Regions from separate parts of the Homo sapiens genome. Here region 2 is linked to region 1. The links come from fine-mapping of genetic effects on gene expression. Tissue or cell type: whole blood. Region 1 holds a variant in brackets; the other region holds the start of a gene. All regions are shown on one strand. Distances are from middle to middle.

Region 1 (8,111 bases):
TCCTAAATAGAAACTCAGAAGTCATTCCAACTGATCCACATTATATAATGAACTGGTGGTGAGGACTAACAAATACAATATCTTTAATATTTTTCATCTGATTCTTTCTTGTACTTCATGGTCTCAGCCTTGGTCTAGGTCTTCCTCATTTATATGCCTGAAGGGCTAAAGCAGTGCTCCAGTTCCTGTATACTTCACCAGTTTGATCCATCTTCCTCAAACTACTCAAGTGACCTTTCTAATACATACATTTTATTCTTATTTCACCTTTCAGTGATGTTTCACTGCCTTCATAATGAAATCAAGTCATCTTTGTAAAACTTGAGTTGCCTTGCCCAATCCAACCCATTCTTAACTTTTCCACATCATCTGTCACTACTCCCATCCTCACATTATATGTTCTACCCATGCCAAATACCTTGATTTTTTCAGAGACAGACATGTTCACACTCATCTCTGTATCTTTGCATATGAGATTCTCTTTGTTTCTTCTCCAGGTAATGCAATTCTTCAATTCTCAACTTCCTAATAGAAATCTTACTTGACATCTTCTCTACCCTTTCCAATATGGTAACATGCTGCCTCCTATATGATCAATGAGTTCCTTAGAAATAACTTAACCATAGGGTTATCAAGTAGCTTGTTGAGTAAGTTTGCATCTTCTCATTTCTTTGTTTTCATGAGCCACCTAACATGTATCACCTTTAAAAGGTCATGGTTAATTTTGGCCTTTTGTTCTGCCTACAAAATACTGTTCCTTCAAGTCTCAGTTCATATTTCAGCTCTTCTGTGAGAGTCTTTCATGTTAATCAGTCCAAATTAAATGCTTCTGCCTCTATTTTCCCCAAAACTAAGCTCTTACTTTTCCTTCCAGGTCATGTTGTATCCTGTCTTGCATGATAATTTAGTGTTTCTATGTCCACTGCCTCCACAAATAACTGTCTAGAGAGACTGGATAGTTCTTTTTTCATCTGCACATTCCTCATGGTGCCCAGCATTATACTTTGGTGGGAGCTCAGTAATATTGAGCCCCAGGAGGAATATTACAAAAGTAGGCACCAGCATAAATAATATCCCAAAACCTCTCAGAGAAAATGATCTGAAGAAGAGAAAATATGTATTTCATATTAATAATTATATTCCAATATGGTGACTGTCATAATAGAGCTAAACAGAGGGTACTCATGAAGTACTTCTCCCATATTGGAGAGGGAGAGAATTCTGGATTGCTCTTGCATAGATAGGTTTCTCTAGAATCAGTGTGCTATTTATGTTCGTAGAAATCACACTTTATCATGGTTCAATATATTTTAATCTGTTTCAAGCATGGTCCTCTTAATGTAACCCATTTAAAAGGCAATTCATGAGACCTTTTGTATTTAGAATGACAGTGGTCACCATTAAGAGGTTCACCCTATATGCGCGCAGCGTGCATTCTTAGTGATTCATGATAGTTTTTCATAAAGGTTATAAATTGCCATATTTCTATTAGTGTCTATTTCCCTGGTAAGTCTTACTTCCAAAATTAATTCATATTGTAAATTGGGCATCCCAAATCCACTGAAATTATTAGCATTTCTTTAAAAGTTCTCAAACTATACATTCATCAAAATTTGACCAAACTCTTATTTCTGTTTCATATGAAGACAATTTATATTTTAATGCTTTTATTAAGATTTTGGAAAAAAAATGGTAGTTTGTAAAGTGTACAAGTCTCAAATGACAATATCTATTTTCTGCAAATAAAAGTATTAGTGCATATTTGGTAACATAAGCTTAAGCTAAAAAGGGATTGTTTTAGGTCAAATTTCTACTTACCCAATCGATTTTATCCACATTCCAATATTTTTTTAAATCTCGGAACTGTATTAGCATTCCCTTCAGTCCCACAACAATAATGCTTGCAAGGACACACTAGAAATAAAACGTAAGTTGAAGAAGAAGCAACATAAAAATTTTAACTTAAATTTAAAAGGGCTAAGGTATTTTTATTTTTTTGTTTTTAAAGTACTTAATAGAGAAAAGCAATCACCGATTAGAAGACAAAAGCAATATTTATTTTGTTTAAAACTAACCTATTATTGCACTTTAGGAATATAATATATATTCTAGAATTCATAAGGTAATATTTGTACAATTCTAAACAACAAGAGCAAAAAGAAAATAAGTAAATGGTAAGGGTGAACATCATGAAGCTAAATGCCCTCTTAACTAAACGTATTCACGGTCATTTGTTTGAAAAGTATTTGTTGCATGAAATTAAATATGTATATCATATATTTTCTTATAATTGCCTTAAATGTCAATTATCTGATTTCACCTGAAGATATTTATAACTCTCTTGAAAAGCGAACTTGATTATTGGAAGATCCTACCATGGAAATGGTTTATTCTCACTACACACATGAAAAATTAGAATAACAAAGGATGGAGACTGGCTCTCATAAGCCCAGTGTTTTGCATTCCTTTAGTGCCTCAGGCTTATGAAGAAGAAGGTGAAGCACTGGCACTAATGTTCTGAATCACTTTGTGTAACAGATATATCAACAGCAGGAAGCTGTATTTTGTTTCCTATTTCCTTGCCCCAGCACATATGTTTTTCTAACAGTCAAAGTTTTAGTAAAATTTATACTTCTTATAACAGAATATGCCTAGTTCCACTCTCCAGATGAGCACAGAATGAATCTAGTTCCACAATACCATTCTTATGTGAGAGCCAAAAACGTAAAAAAAAACAGCCACGGTACCCCCTCCCACGCCTGCCTCAAATGTGGTAGCTTTCCACACCTCCCCCATTCAAACTTTACTTCTGTAACATGGTTTCTACATTTAGGATTGTTGAGGTTATACTTCCAAGAAATTTTATATGCAATGATTCTCATGAAAAGTTAAATTAAAAAGTAGATAGTGAAAAAGCACTACCGTACCATGGGCAGCCAGTAAAGCAAAGGTCCTATTGCATAGATGACTATAAGGACGAAAATGCAAGATATTAGACAAGCCACCTGTAAAATACAAGACAGACAAAAAGGAAAAAGAAAGCCTTGAACTTTTTTATTATGTCAAAGTTATGGGGTGGGGGGGATAATTCTTAGTTTATCTTGATTAGAAGAAGTAAAATGTTGACACATAACTGTTAAATTGCTTAGACTGTCATTATCTATATTTTGCAACTGAGGGAAGCCAAATGTGACAGCTGACAAACTGGTGCAATCAAATTAAGTCAGTGATGAGAGAAAAGCAATTTCACACAAAGAAACAGGACACCATCAACTTTTATCACAATCACAGTGATGGCTTTTTTGTTTAATAGTGAAAGTGACATTTCAATTAAAATTTCTTTAGCCTGTTGTTGTTTAGCCTGACTCCCCTCCTTATTTTGTAGGAGGTTGTTTGAGCAATAACTGAATATGTGGCTTAGGATTTTTCTGTGCTGATAATTTCCACTGAAGCATTTACCTTGTTCTTTGGATTTCTTTGTTAGTAAAGGCTCAAGTTGTGGAGTAGTTATATGGGATATGGGAGTGATCTCTGGCTGTGGAACAGACTTAATTTTACTAAACCTGAAAAGCCATTAGTATCATGTTCTAACCAACCAGCCTGCTGACAAAAGGCAGTTCAATTCACCTGACTCCTATAGTCATGTTCCACTTGATGGAGAACTTGATTTCACAGAAGCAAATGTTCAGGACCTAATAAAACATTTGGCCAAACTGCCTTCCTAACAAGAGAAAAGAAGGCTTTCACAGGCCATGGAGATGCCTAGAACATCATTATGGAGATATCAAAGGGAATTTGGACCTAGTAGAATGGCTTAAATTAAAAATAAATATATAAACAAACAATCAATATCAAAGGCTGGCAAAAACTCAGCACAACTGGAATTCTCAGGCATTGCTGGTGGGAATACAATATGGTACAGCTACTCTGAAACAGTTTGGCAGTGTCTTATAAAGTTACACATACACTTACCTTATGACTCAGGACTGGCTAAGAGAAATGAAACATATGTCCACGTGAAACCTAAATATATATTTGTAGAACCTTTATTCATAAATGCCAAAATCATAAATAACTAAAATATCAACTAATTGGTGAATAAAGTGTGGTACATCCATACATTAAAATACAACTCAGCAATTTAAAAAAATGGATGAAATTCAAAATCATTAAACTAATGAAAGAACCTAAACACAAAAGGCTACATACTATAAGATTTCATATATATGACTTTCTGAAAAAAAGATAAATTATAGGATGCTAGAGGCTGGAGGTGGAGGCAAAGAATTGACTACAAAAGAGTATGAGAAAACTTTTTAGGGTGATAGAAATATTCTATATCTTGATTTTACTTGTTATACAACAATTTTTTTTTCAAAAAAAGTGAACCGTATACCTTAAAAGAATAAATTTTACTATATCTAAATTATACCTCCATAAACCTTACTTTTAATTTAAAAAAAAAAAGAAACCTGGGAAGAGATCTCTAACAATTGCTTACATGCATATGTCCACACCCACAACACTTGTCCTAACCTGGTACTATTAAAAGGTGTGTGTATATGGGAAGAAGGAGAGTGGAGTGGCAGTAGCTATAATTATTCTGCTAAGCAAGCAGTCATTCAAGGCCTTTCCCTGTTGGCAGAGGCTGAGGGAGTCTGTTCTCCCTTCCATAGTTTGTGTAACTCATCACAAACACTCGTCAGCATACAAAGGGGAAAAACAATTCTTACTTGGGAATTAAATCAGTAGGGGAACTAATGATTGCCCATAAAAAAAGTTATAGTACACCAAATTGTCACTATCCTGATCATTTAGGAGCAATTGGTGATTTTACATAAGAATTTTTAAACAATAAAATATGATGCCTGACATT[CTACT/T]ATACTGCAACGAGGTAGGTGTCAGAGTGCAGCTCACAGGATCCAGTCAGAGAGCTCAGTCAGTGATTCAGTAATTCCATGTTTACATGAAAAGAAAAAAATACCAACAGCTAAGGTTTATTTTAAGACAAAAGACAATGGCATGTACCCTTTTTGTGGGACTCTTCACTCATATCTTTACAATGTACCTGAAACCAAAACCCTAAATCTTAGGAGCTGGAATGAACTTTGTACACATGCAGTTGCAATTACTTGGAAGGATCTGAGACACAGAGAGGCAAAGTGACTATGCCAAGGTCATAGAGCTAGGGAATTAGAAAGCACGAAGGTAATATAAAATATGTACTGAATTGGGATCCAAAAACGCCAAATATATTTTAAGGTTCCCAAATTTATTATAGTACACTAAAGCTGTTATAGAAATTACAACCTAACTAAATAATTCTATTTAAAAACAGTAAATCACAACTACATTTGGGCTTTTCTCTAAATAATATTTAATTTATCTTTTATTTACATGGTGCTTTGTATGTTCATTAACAACAATTGAATTACAATTTCAGTCTTGTAGTAAAAATAAGTCAAGAGTTAAATGGATCTTATTTGGTAAAGGGTGACAAACTGTGGGTGAAAAAGACTATTTGTTTACCTTAAATGGTAAGTCATGTAATGAAATAGACCATAAGCAAATGGGTTATGTTAGCTCCCTTGACGCACTTGCCTTATCATTGTTGATGCCCTTGGTCAAAAGATAAGTTCATCTAATCAGACAAGAAACTCTTAAGCTCTGTCCAGTGTATATACTCCCCAGTCATGGAAATTAATATTATAGTGTCTGCCCTCAAAGCTCTCAAAATACTGGTATTCATTCTCTTCATAAAGAAGAAGCCAGGACACTGAAATTTGGATTCGTAAAAAATCTTTGAGATTATGCAGTGAAAGCCATCATTCCCTAACTGGCCAACTCAGTAAATTCAAAAAGAGCTCAAATTAAGATCAAATATTTGCAGTGTATAAAATAGAATTCTCTAATTTCAGGATTCTATAATAACCCACTTAAGCTATATTTCAAATATCATCTACTTTCTTCGTATATTTTACTTTGCATATGAGGTAATATTTTCTTGCCTTTCTCTGACCTACCTTGAGAAAAATTTGAAAAACAAGTTAAAACCAGAACAAAAGAGATGAGCTTGTTCCTTTTTTAATCTCAGGAAAAAAAAAACAAAACTAGCTCCTTCTTAATAAGTTTCAGGTTGGCTTCTATTGCACTTATTAAAGTGTTCACACAATTACCCACTGGGCAAACACTGGCTAGGATTTTACTCTTTAACTCCTTCTTTCCACATCATACTAACTAAATGACCAAATATATTTTTGCTTCAAAATCATAACTACTGATATTTAAGAGTTAATTCTGCATAAAAGATAATGAAATAATCTATATTTTATTCTTGTTATGTTCTCAAACAATTATTTTATATGCTCTATGTTAGTTACAAAGATGACCATACATGCATTTTTATTATCCATACCTAGATATTTCGTTGGGAGTAGAGGGAGAAACCAGCCATTTACTTCCTAAGCAGTTGTCAAAGAAGGCATAAGTAGTTCTCGAACTCACTGCATGTGCAGTCTTGTGGAAAGTAGTGAAATGGCAAAAGAGATGGGAAAGGGCAGAAAGAAAAAAAGAGAGAGATGACATTAGATAACTAAAGCTAGATTAAGAAGGTTTTAAAGGAGATGAAAGCAATTAGCCAAATTTCAAAAGAATAAAGGAATACAGTTTGGCAAATTAGAATGCGGAGACAATCTCAGTGTTGCAGAAAAACATGCCAGCTGTTGTTTTCAGTTGTGGCTGAGCTGCCTGTGCAGCAGACACAGTCTCTCATCCCTCCTGGGTATACCTCCCGAGCTCCCTGCAGAGCACCAGCGGATCTCCTCTGTTGGAAGTGAAGAGAAGCATGCAAGGAAGAAAGCCAGGGGACACTGAGCTCCCTCCCATACTTACCGTTCTTTACAGGGAAGGAGAAAAGGAAGAAATGTAATTTTTTTGTGCTATTTGTCTAAGCTGTGCCACAAATTTCTTATTCCCCTAAAGACCTTTCTTAGATATGCATGCTTTGGGTGTCACATCTAAAGGGGGTCACTGTAAAAAGGGTTTCTTCATATGGAAGATAGAAATGAGTCTGATGACCATGGCACTTGGTGTTAAATGATCAGTAACTCTTGTTGTTCCAATCCAAACATTTGGTTTCATTTTCTAAAGCACTGAAAGTCTTTACCATCAACTCACTTCTATATAAAATTGTCCCAAATTCACTGTCAAAACAGCCTCATATGGCTCTTGAGGACTTGAAATTTGGCTAGTTCATATTAAGGTATGCTGAAATCTAAAATACCAGATTTTGAAGCCTTGTACCAAGAAGAAAATAATGTTAAAATATCATTAATAACTTTTAAATTATTAACTTTGAAATATTAACATTAAAATGATAATATTTTGACTCCATTAGGGAAATTAAAATATAAAATTAAAATTATCAATTTCTTCTACTTCTAAAAATGTGGCTACTGGAAAATTTAAATTATCTGTGTAGCTCATATTATGTTTCTGTTCAATAGTGCTTCTCTGAAGTGCATGATCCTAAGCCTGGTTTTAAATGGGATTTTCTGTAAATGTGCAACATTAAGCAGTAATTAAAAAGAACTGTCCAGCCTGACCAGTCTCTTCTAATGTCAGCAAAACTGGTAGTTTTCTTTTATAGTTATTGGAAGCTCTCATTTCTCATTCATTCTTTTCTGTAGTAGTTACCTAACACCTACCACATGCCAGGTCCTGGGCTAGCCACTGAGGATACACTGAACCAAACCAGACAAGGTTTTGTGTTCTCCAGTAGCTTTAAGTCAAGGATAGAAGGGTAACATCAATCATATAATCACAATAATGAACATTTAATGTCAAATAGCACTAAGGACGCTGACAAAGAGGAACATGACAGACCCAGAAGTGGCAGTGAGATACGAAGGATGGGAGGAATTCACATAGAGAGGAAGGGAAAGGCAGCCTCAAAGACAAAGGGAACAGACACTGGAACCCACAAGGGCTGGAGAAGGACTAGGTCTGAGAATGAGGTGGAGAACAGGCCAAGAGGAGGCTGTGCCAGGACGCACTCAGCGCCTGGTAGACAGCAGAAATGTCTGAATTCTAAGACCCACGCAAAGCCTTTT
Region 2 (8,095 bases), 310 kb after region 1:
TGATTAAACTAGACTTTGGGGTGTTGGGAGTGGATAAGTGTAGTTTGCCTGTGAGGGGGATGTGAACCACAGTGACCAGTGGGCAGACTATGGTAGACTGTTATATAATAGCATCCAGTGGATCATGCCTTGTTGTGTTCCACACCCCTTTGCATTGTGACATTGCTACTCTTCACTTGAAGTGATGGAATCTGTTCCTCCACCAGCCTTGTGACTTCCTTTGATCATGACGAGGCCTCTAGGTGCTTGTTTTTTTCCAAGCAGGAGGCAGGCTGAGAAAGCCATTGATGGTGGGAGAATGTGATAAGAAGCGATGTTTGAGAACCAGAGCCTAGATCTTAGGGATCCCTTACCTTCCACCATCATCCTCTTAGAATAGTGTTCTGAGAATACGAGGTATATGAGGAAGTCTGGAATAAAGACTACATGAAGAGAATTGCCCAGTGAGCCCAAATTTCCCAGCTGAGCCTAGCCCCCAGCAAACCTGCCAGCTGAATGCTGCTGCCTGAATGTTCAGGCAAGTCTGACAGAATGGCCACCCAGTCAACTACAGAATCATAGAAAATAACAACTCATGTTGTTTTAAGCCACTGAGTATTGGTATGGTTTGTTAGCAGTAGATCGCTGAAACAACAGCTTAAGTACATTAGATCTCACATATTATCTGTTTATAGAGTATTTTTATTCCAATAGACACATTAGCTCATCTCATGAATAGAGATGGCAAAGTATCATAATCATAATCATAAAAATACCTTGGATTGATGAGTATTATTTAACAACTATTGAGAAACCATAAACCATAGTATGATCTTTAACCTAGAATGAAGTAGTACTCATCTCATAAAAGCCTTTTGCTTTTTGTGGAAGTTGAGATTGCTGCAAATATAATCTCAGTATATCTACTACCTTTTGTAGTGTAAGAAGAGTAACTGTCATGAGCCTCAAATGAGTTCTGCAGTAGAGAAACCATATAATGAAGTAAAGAAAAAAACAAACAACAACAAAAAAAAAACCTTTATACTGATCACTACATGGGCAAAAAAGAAGACAGTTGTAGAGGTATGATGGAATAAAAAAATTGATCAGTCAGATGGCAAAACTGTCATCTTCATCAAAATGCCAAGAAATGTTCTTAATCTTTTTGTGCCAAACATTTTGTTTTAGTAAGATTCTGGGACTGTGTATATTTGTTCATTCACTCAATTGTTTATTTGACAAATATCGAGTGTTTACTAATGTGCCAAGCATTGTGCTAGATACTGGAGATCTAGTTATAAATAAGATAGATAGGTTTCTGACCTCAGAAATTTGGTTGGGGCTGGAGTTGTCACAATGGAGTGTGACAGGTAACACGACAGAATACTATAGTAGTAAGATTTTGTTGATTTTTCTCATAATTTTCTTTAACTCAATAGTCTCCAGGCTGCAGTTATAAAAACACTGCTGTTCATTTTTGTAAATTACAGGCACTTTTGCAGGAAGTGCTACATCTTGATTCTGTACTTTCCAGGTTCCTGGAGACCTAGAAATGCCCTTATATCATATAGGGATCCTTATATTGTATTGTATCCTGATGCTACTGATCCACAAAAGATGCTGCGTGAGTGCAAACATCATTATTTGATTTCCCCTTAGGATTTCCAGCTGATGCCTAAGTGGATTTTTCTGGAAGAAAGAATGTATCTTTAGAAAGCAGAGTGAGGATCCTTCCTAATGTAATTTGAAACATAGTTTCGTATGTCTAACTTCTGCTTTGCCTCATGCTCACTGAAATCTACAGCTAGCCTCATTTTCCACTTGTTTTTGACTCTCTCAGGCATCTTGAGGATTGAGATCATGTCGTAGTTATCTTTTAGACTTAGTAAATGAGTAATAAATGTTTCTTTTGAGTGACTCAAAAATTATTGCAGAAAAATTATCATCCTAGATCATTACTATTTTTCTATTGCATTTTTATTTAGACATGTTCAAAACTTTATTTATTTTTTTTTTTTTGAGACGGAGTTTCACTCTTGTTGCCCAGGCTGGAGTGCAACGGCACGATCTCAGCTCACCTCTACCTCTGCCTCCCGGATTCAAGTGATTCTCCTGCCTCGGCCTCCCGAGTAGCTGGGATTACAGGCATGCGCCAGCACGCCTCGCTAATTTTGTATTTTTAGTAGAGATGGGGTTTCTCCATGTTGGTTAGGCTGATCTCGAACTCCTGACCTCAGGTGATCTGCCTGCCTTGGACTCCCAAAGTGCTGGGATTACAGGCGTGAGCCACCACGCCTGGCCTCAAAACTTTAATTTGTTTTCATATTCATGTAAACTACTTTTGGATAATATGACAAACCACCAAATAAAAAAGAAAAGAAAAACATATAAAACATGGCAAGAACTGTGTTTTTAAAGAAAAAAGTTATTCAGTGATTCTTGTCAAAGCATGGTAAGGAAGACTGTATTTAGGGCTATAGTGATAGGTATAGGGACCATGGCAGCAGGGTCTTGCCATGTTGAAGAAGAGATTAGGCTCAATTCTGAATGCAGCATGGACAAGTGGGAATTTATAGCCTAGGAGCATGCAGGACAGGGGCAGTAGATGGAAAATTACCAAGGAAATATCAGGGATAAGGGGGATTCTGACTAAACCAAGCAAACGGGATTCTTGCTGAAGACAGAACAGGAGTTCAGGCCTCACATGGGGGATGCTGGAGGATGAGGAACCTGATCAAATATCAATATTGAGAATGGGGCTTCTTGCTAAATTAAGTTAGTAGGGTTCTTTGCTAAAACTGGATTTTATAAGGAAGTGCAGATGGGCCCAGCATAAGATTCAGAAACCTTACTTGTTTGACCAAGCAAAGAATCTTTGTCAGTGCTTAGGGTTTTTTGTGTTTTAACTCTGTTTTACAAGTAAACGATTATTTTAAAACTTTTGTCTCAAGAAACTTGTTTTTCGTTGTTTGACGTTATTCATAAACCTACTTACTGTATATGTGTCAGGGACAATAGGCTACAAAACCAAAACTAAGATGACAACCTATTTTGTAAAATGAAACTTGTAAAAGGCAACACACTGCATAGTTCCAAAAAGGTACTGTTACCAGAGTTCCAAACCGGTCAGGCCAACATTCCTGTTGTTAAAAAAAATCAATCAGGAAAAGTAGGGAATGCTGACACTTCCGCAAAGATCTACTTTCTCTTAGATAACAGATGTTGAAAACTGATTTCCCACAAAAAAACCCTAGAGGAATTGATAACCCCAGGAAGATGTTTTCTTTATATAACTGCTGCAAAGTTTGACAGCAAAGAGTCAGTCCCTCCTCCTCCTTAGGGGAGATAAACTTGATAATCTGCTTTTGCTCCAGTTTTCTTGTAATCAAGTCACAGGCCTTTCCTCTTCGCTAGCCCCTTTCAGGCTGCTTTTTATCCGTCTTTCCTAGAGCAAAGGACTTGTCCCCCTCCATCCCATTTACTCTCGACCCCCTTTCAGTTACTTGGCATCTTCTTTTCCTCGCGTTTCCCAGTTGGTCCTAATTTGTTCCCCTTTTCTCTGGCTGGCTGGGCTCCCGCTCCTCCACTGCTGCTCCTCCCACTCTGCGGGTTCTTTCTTTCTCCCTCCCCTCCCCTCCCCCAGCCATGCCTCCCAGCGCGCTTCCCTTCCCCCGCCTCCTGGTCCTGCACCCTCCCCTCCCCTCCCCCCGCTTCCTGCCTTGTGACACATCCCGGGCCCTCCCGGAGGCGGCAGCAGCAGCAGCTGCAGCGGCAGCAGCGGCAGCAGAGGCAGCAGCAGTAGCCACCACTCCGCCGAGGCCGCAACCCCGGCTCGGCCTCCCCAGGCCCCGCCGCTGCCGCAGTCATGGCTGCTGATGGGGTGGACGAACGCTCGCCTCTGCTGTCAGCATCCCACTCCGGAAATGTCACTCCCACCGCCCCACCGTACTTGCAAGAAAGCAGCCCCAGAGGTAAGGCCAGCGTAGATCCCTCTACTTTGCAAGGAAGTAGATTTGCAAGGAAACGCCCAGAAGGATAAAGACCTGGGAGCTCTAGCTTGGAGGTGGAGGTGAGCCTCTCGCTTGGGCTGAGGAAGGATGCTGACTGTGCCTTCCCAGGCAAGCCCGCCTGCCTGATAGCTTCTCCGCAGGGTTTTTCTGGTGGTGGTGGTGATGGTGGTGGTGGTGGTGGTGGTGATGGTGGTGGTGGTGGTGGTGGTGATGGTGTGTGTGTGTATTTCACCACTTCTTACCCAGGGCTACAGTATGTGACATGAATTTCCCAAGCTCTGCTTAGCTGTTTTCAGAACAGCCCCTAAGCGCAGCTAGGAGGTGGTGCAAATCTTTCACAATCATTCACAAATCTTTTTCCGTTGCTGAGAAACCAGGAGTATTGCTCACCTTGGCATCTGTCCTTGAAAGGGCTTTAGCTTGAACAATATGCTTCTGCTACCATTCACCCAACAGTGCTCTGTTCACTCAGTGAATTGCCATATCCAAAATGAATACAGTTAATCAATATTCCTAATATGTCTGAAATTCCTGCCCCTCCTTTTTACTCCTACTTTCAAGGAGTATGTGTTAGATTTAATTGTGAATGAGAAGGAAGGACCTTACTTCTCATAGAAGGGAAGATGGGATATTTTTAACACATATCTGGGTGAGATTGAAATTAACTTGTAAAAAGTAACCCAAATTAATAATACATATATTTCTATTTTTTTCTCAAGAAGAATAAAAAAAGATTAAATGCAATGGGATCTGGAGAAATATGGAATCTATTTACCATACTATTCGATTTATTTAAAAATCGATCGTTGTTCTAAGCCTTTTAGTTGATTACTATAGTAAATAAATAAGGTGGAGTCAGGCGTTACAAGAAAATGGAAGGCAAGACTTAAAAAAACCCACTTAGGTTAGTGAAAAGATTGGTCAAAATGGCACTTGCAAATGTTCCTTAAGTGCATCTCTCTCTTTTTTTGGCTAAATATGAGCAAAGTTTAAAAACCCAAGGAAGCAAAAGTTAATGATTTTGAAAATATAAGTAGGTAATGTTTCTTGTAATACAAGTTTTTAAGTTCAAGTCTGGAATTAGAGCTGATGTAGAGCAGGTTGAACTTGCTTAGTATTTAAAATTTCTATTTAACATTTTGTAACTTCAAAATAAACTATCTAGATCTTAATCCATACTTAACAAGAAGAAAAACAAAGGAAAAAGATGCTTAGCTGTAAATAATTCAGTGTGAGCCATGGCTTGAGAAATAAGGCACAGAGAGAGACTTGCCCACAGAAAACCTACAGGTCATTTTTGTTGGTCAGCATTAAACTTGTATCAGAGGACACCAGGCAAGAGAATTTCCTCTAATGGGCCAATTTGATATGAATATTTTACTGTTATCTAAATCGTATTATGTAGAATAGACTTAAACACTCACTAATGAATGTTTCAACTTCATCAAGTCAGCCTTTTATGGCAAAATGTTTGGCGGTTTATTAGGAGACAAAGTTTCAATTTAAGTATTTGTCCTATAACCTATTTTCATGCCCTCAACTAGTGGATAAGTTATTTTTTAAAAATGGCTACACTCAGGGATCAGCTTATAGACATCTTTATTATTTTCCATATATTTGTTTAACCTAATAAGATTCCTCAAACTACACAAGTATAAGTTCCAGTTCAGCCACTGAGAAAAAGTAGTGTCATTGTAGAAAACTTTTAACAACCAGAGAAATTCAATGACTTAGCAAAAAGCTGCTTCTGCCTTATGGTAGAATACATTTTTTCTTAATTGGTGAATGAGACAGGTTAGATGATTAGAGAAACTCTTAATTTCATATGACATAACACCTACTAAGGAAGAAGCATAAATGAGAGGTAAAAGCATTTTATTTGCATTTTGACAGAATATTTTTCTTCATAAGTAACAAACATTGTAATAAATATTATGAGTAATACACAAGATCTGGAAGACCACCACTATTCATTCATTTATTAATTTATTGGGAAGCACAATGTGCCATACACTGCTCTAGGGGAACAAGAGTGATCAATCCCATACCCTCATGAAGACTATATTGTATTAGGGAGAAAGAATAAATAAATACATGGCTGAATTATTTCAGATTGTAAAAAAAATTCTATCACTAGATCAGATGTTTTTGGTAGTTGAAAACCGTTAGGGTTGACAGTTGGAATTCAATCAGAAACAGAATGCACTTTCTGATAATGAATTTTAGTTAATGATCCCATTTACAATTATTCAGACTTTTATTTTTTTAAAAAAAGAAGTTAAAAGCTATAACTAGTGAATATTTTCTCCAATCTGACCCCTTTCTCTTTCTTTTACCTTCTAAAGTACAGGAATGTTAGTTCCCACCTCCAAGATGAAATAGTCCATTTCAGGTTGAAAGTCGGTGGAGTGTTTATTTCTAGACAGATTATTAATAATGTAGCAGGGAGCAGTTAGTATTGTGTGTTTGGTTTTAGCACAAGAAAAATCATGTGTGGTCTGTGTAACAATCCATGTTGGTTTCTAAGTGGAGCATGTCTAGTGTTCTCTACTGTCAGTATTGGATTCATGCATAGGAAATTGCTTCTCTCCTGCTTGCAGTGCTTCGTTTAATATACTTGCCAGTTTTTGTTTAGGTATAGAAATTAAAATTAAAGAGAGTTTTAGGCTCATCTGAAAGGAGATTGGAAGAAATACCACAAAATTTACACAGTTTTGATGTATTAATTGATTCCTTTATACATCTGCTAATTTTGTAGTTAGGATATAACAAAAGAATATGACCTTTGAATTTATAAGATTTTTTCTGTGAAAATTGTTTATATCTGGGGTTGTCTCATTATGTATTCAATATGGAAATGGGATTATATACTTCACTATAATTCATAAAGGGAAAATAATAATTTGTTATACAGAGGCAGACAGTTTGATTTACTTAGTTTATTATTCAGCAAATAAATATTTGAGTACCAGCCAAATCTGTGGTAGGAGAAGAAAAATAGTCATGGCTCCTCTTCCAGTGTAGTGGGGGTATTGAGAAATAAATTATGTAATCACACAAACAGATGCAAAATGCAATGGTGATGAAGACAGTGCTGGAAATATATGCAATACCTTGAGAGTATAAATTAAGATTTAATTTTGTTGAGGGAGTCGGGGAAGGCTTTCTTGATGCTTGAATGAGATCTGAAAGTTGAGCAAGAGTTAACTTGGCAAAAGGTGGACTGGAAGACCATTATAGGCAAAGAAAGCAGTATTGGCAAAGTGATCAGCAGGGTGGAGTATGACAAATACAAGGAACTTAAGGAAGGCCAACGTGGCTAAAATGGAAACAGCAGTAGGAAATGCACTGCAAAATGGGACTGGAGAGATAGGTATGGTGGATATTCTCCGAAGACTCTCTTTCCCCTTCAAAGAACTATGTCTTCTGATATTCAGTTTCCTCCCCTTGAATCTGGGCTGATGCCATGACTTGATTTTGACCTCTAGAATAAGGTAGAAAATATGCTGAATGACTTTGGAGGGTAGGTCAGAAGAGGTTTTACAGCTTTTATCTTGGTCTTTTGTAAAGTACACTCTGGGGAAAGTAACTTGTCATGTAAGAAGTGGAACACTCTGAGACTGCCATGCTTTATGGAACCTGAAACTAGCCTGGTAGAGAGAAAGATGCCTGACCAGCCCTCAGACATGTGAAGGGAGATGCCATCTTGGATGCCAAGCTCAATTGAGCCTTCACATGACTCCAGCCTTAGCCAAATTCTTACTACAACCACATGTGGCCAACTTGTTCTGCAGCAACAGATGACCAGAATAATGAATATGAATCAGCCCATCCAGGATATTGTTGGTCATGTTAAGGAATATTGCCATAAGCAAAGGGATGACTGGATTAAATCTTTATTATTAGTTTTTAAACCACTCTATAGATTAGAGAATGAATTAGAGGATTGGCTAGAGTAGACAAGAATAGATGACTTCCTTGATTATTGTAATAATTCGGGCAATTTAACTGAACTATTTCAGTAGCTTGGACTCAGGTGGTGGTAGAGATGGAGAGATGAAGGATGATGTTAAGGAGGTGGATTGAACAGGGCTTGATGATGGATT

What was found. PIP is the estimated chance that this variant, and not a neighbour inherited with it, causes the effect.
Region 2: PIP4P2 starts here. The variant in region 1 is fine-mapped to the expression of PIP4P2 in whole blood (INTERVAL, PIP 0.98).

Annotation. Positions count from the first base shown.
Region 1 is chr8:91,346,704-91,354,814 of GRCh38, reverse strand. It overlaps SLC26A7 (solute carrier family 26 member 7), which reads right to left. Exons shown (of 19, transcript NM_052832.4): 10 at 2,928-3,005; 11 at 1,819-1,914. Among named protein-coding and RNA genes, the nearest start is that of SLC26A7, 100 kb to the right of the region's middle. The variant CTACT/T (reference allele first, on the strand shown) is at 4,877.
Region 2 is chr8:91,036,499-91,044,593 of GRCh38, reverse strand. PIP4P2 (phosphatidylinositol-4,5-bisphosphate 4-phosphatase 2) reads left to right here and starts at 3,735. Exons shown (of 7, transcript NM_018710.3): 1 at 3,735-3,950. The coding sequence starts at 3,845. RefSeq lists a silencer at 3,514-3,713.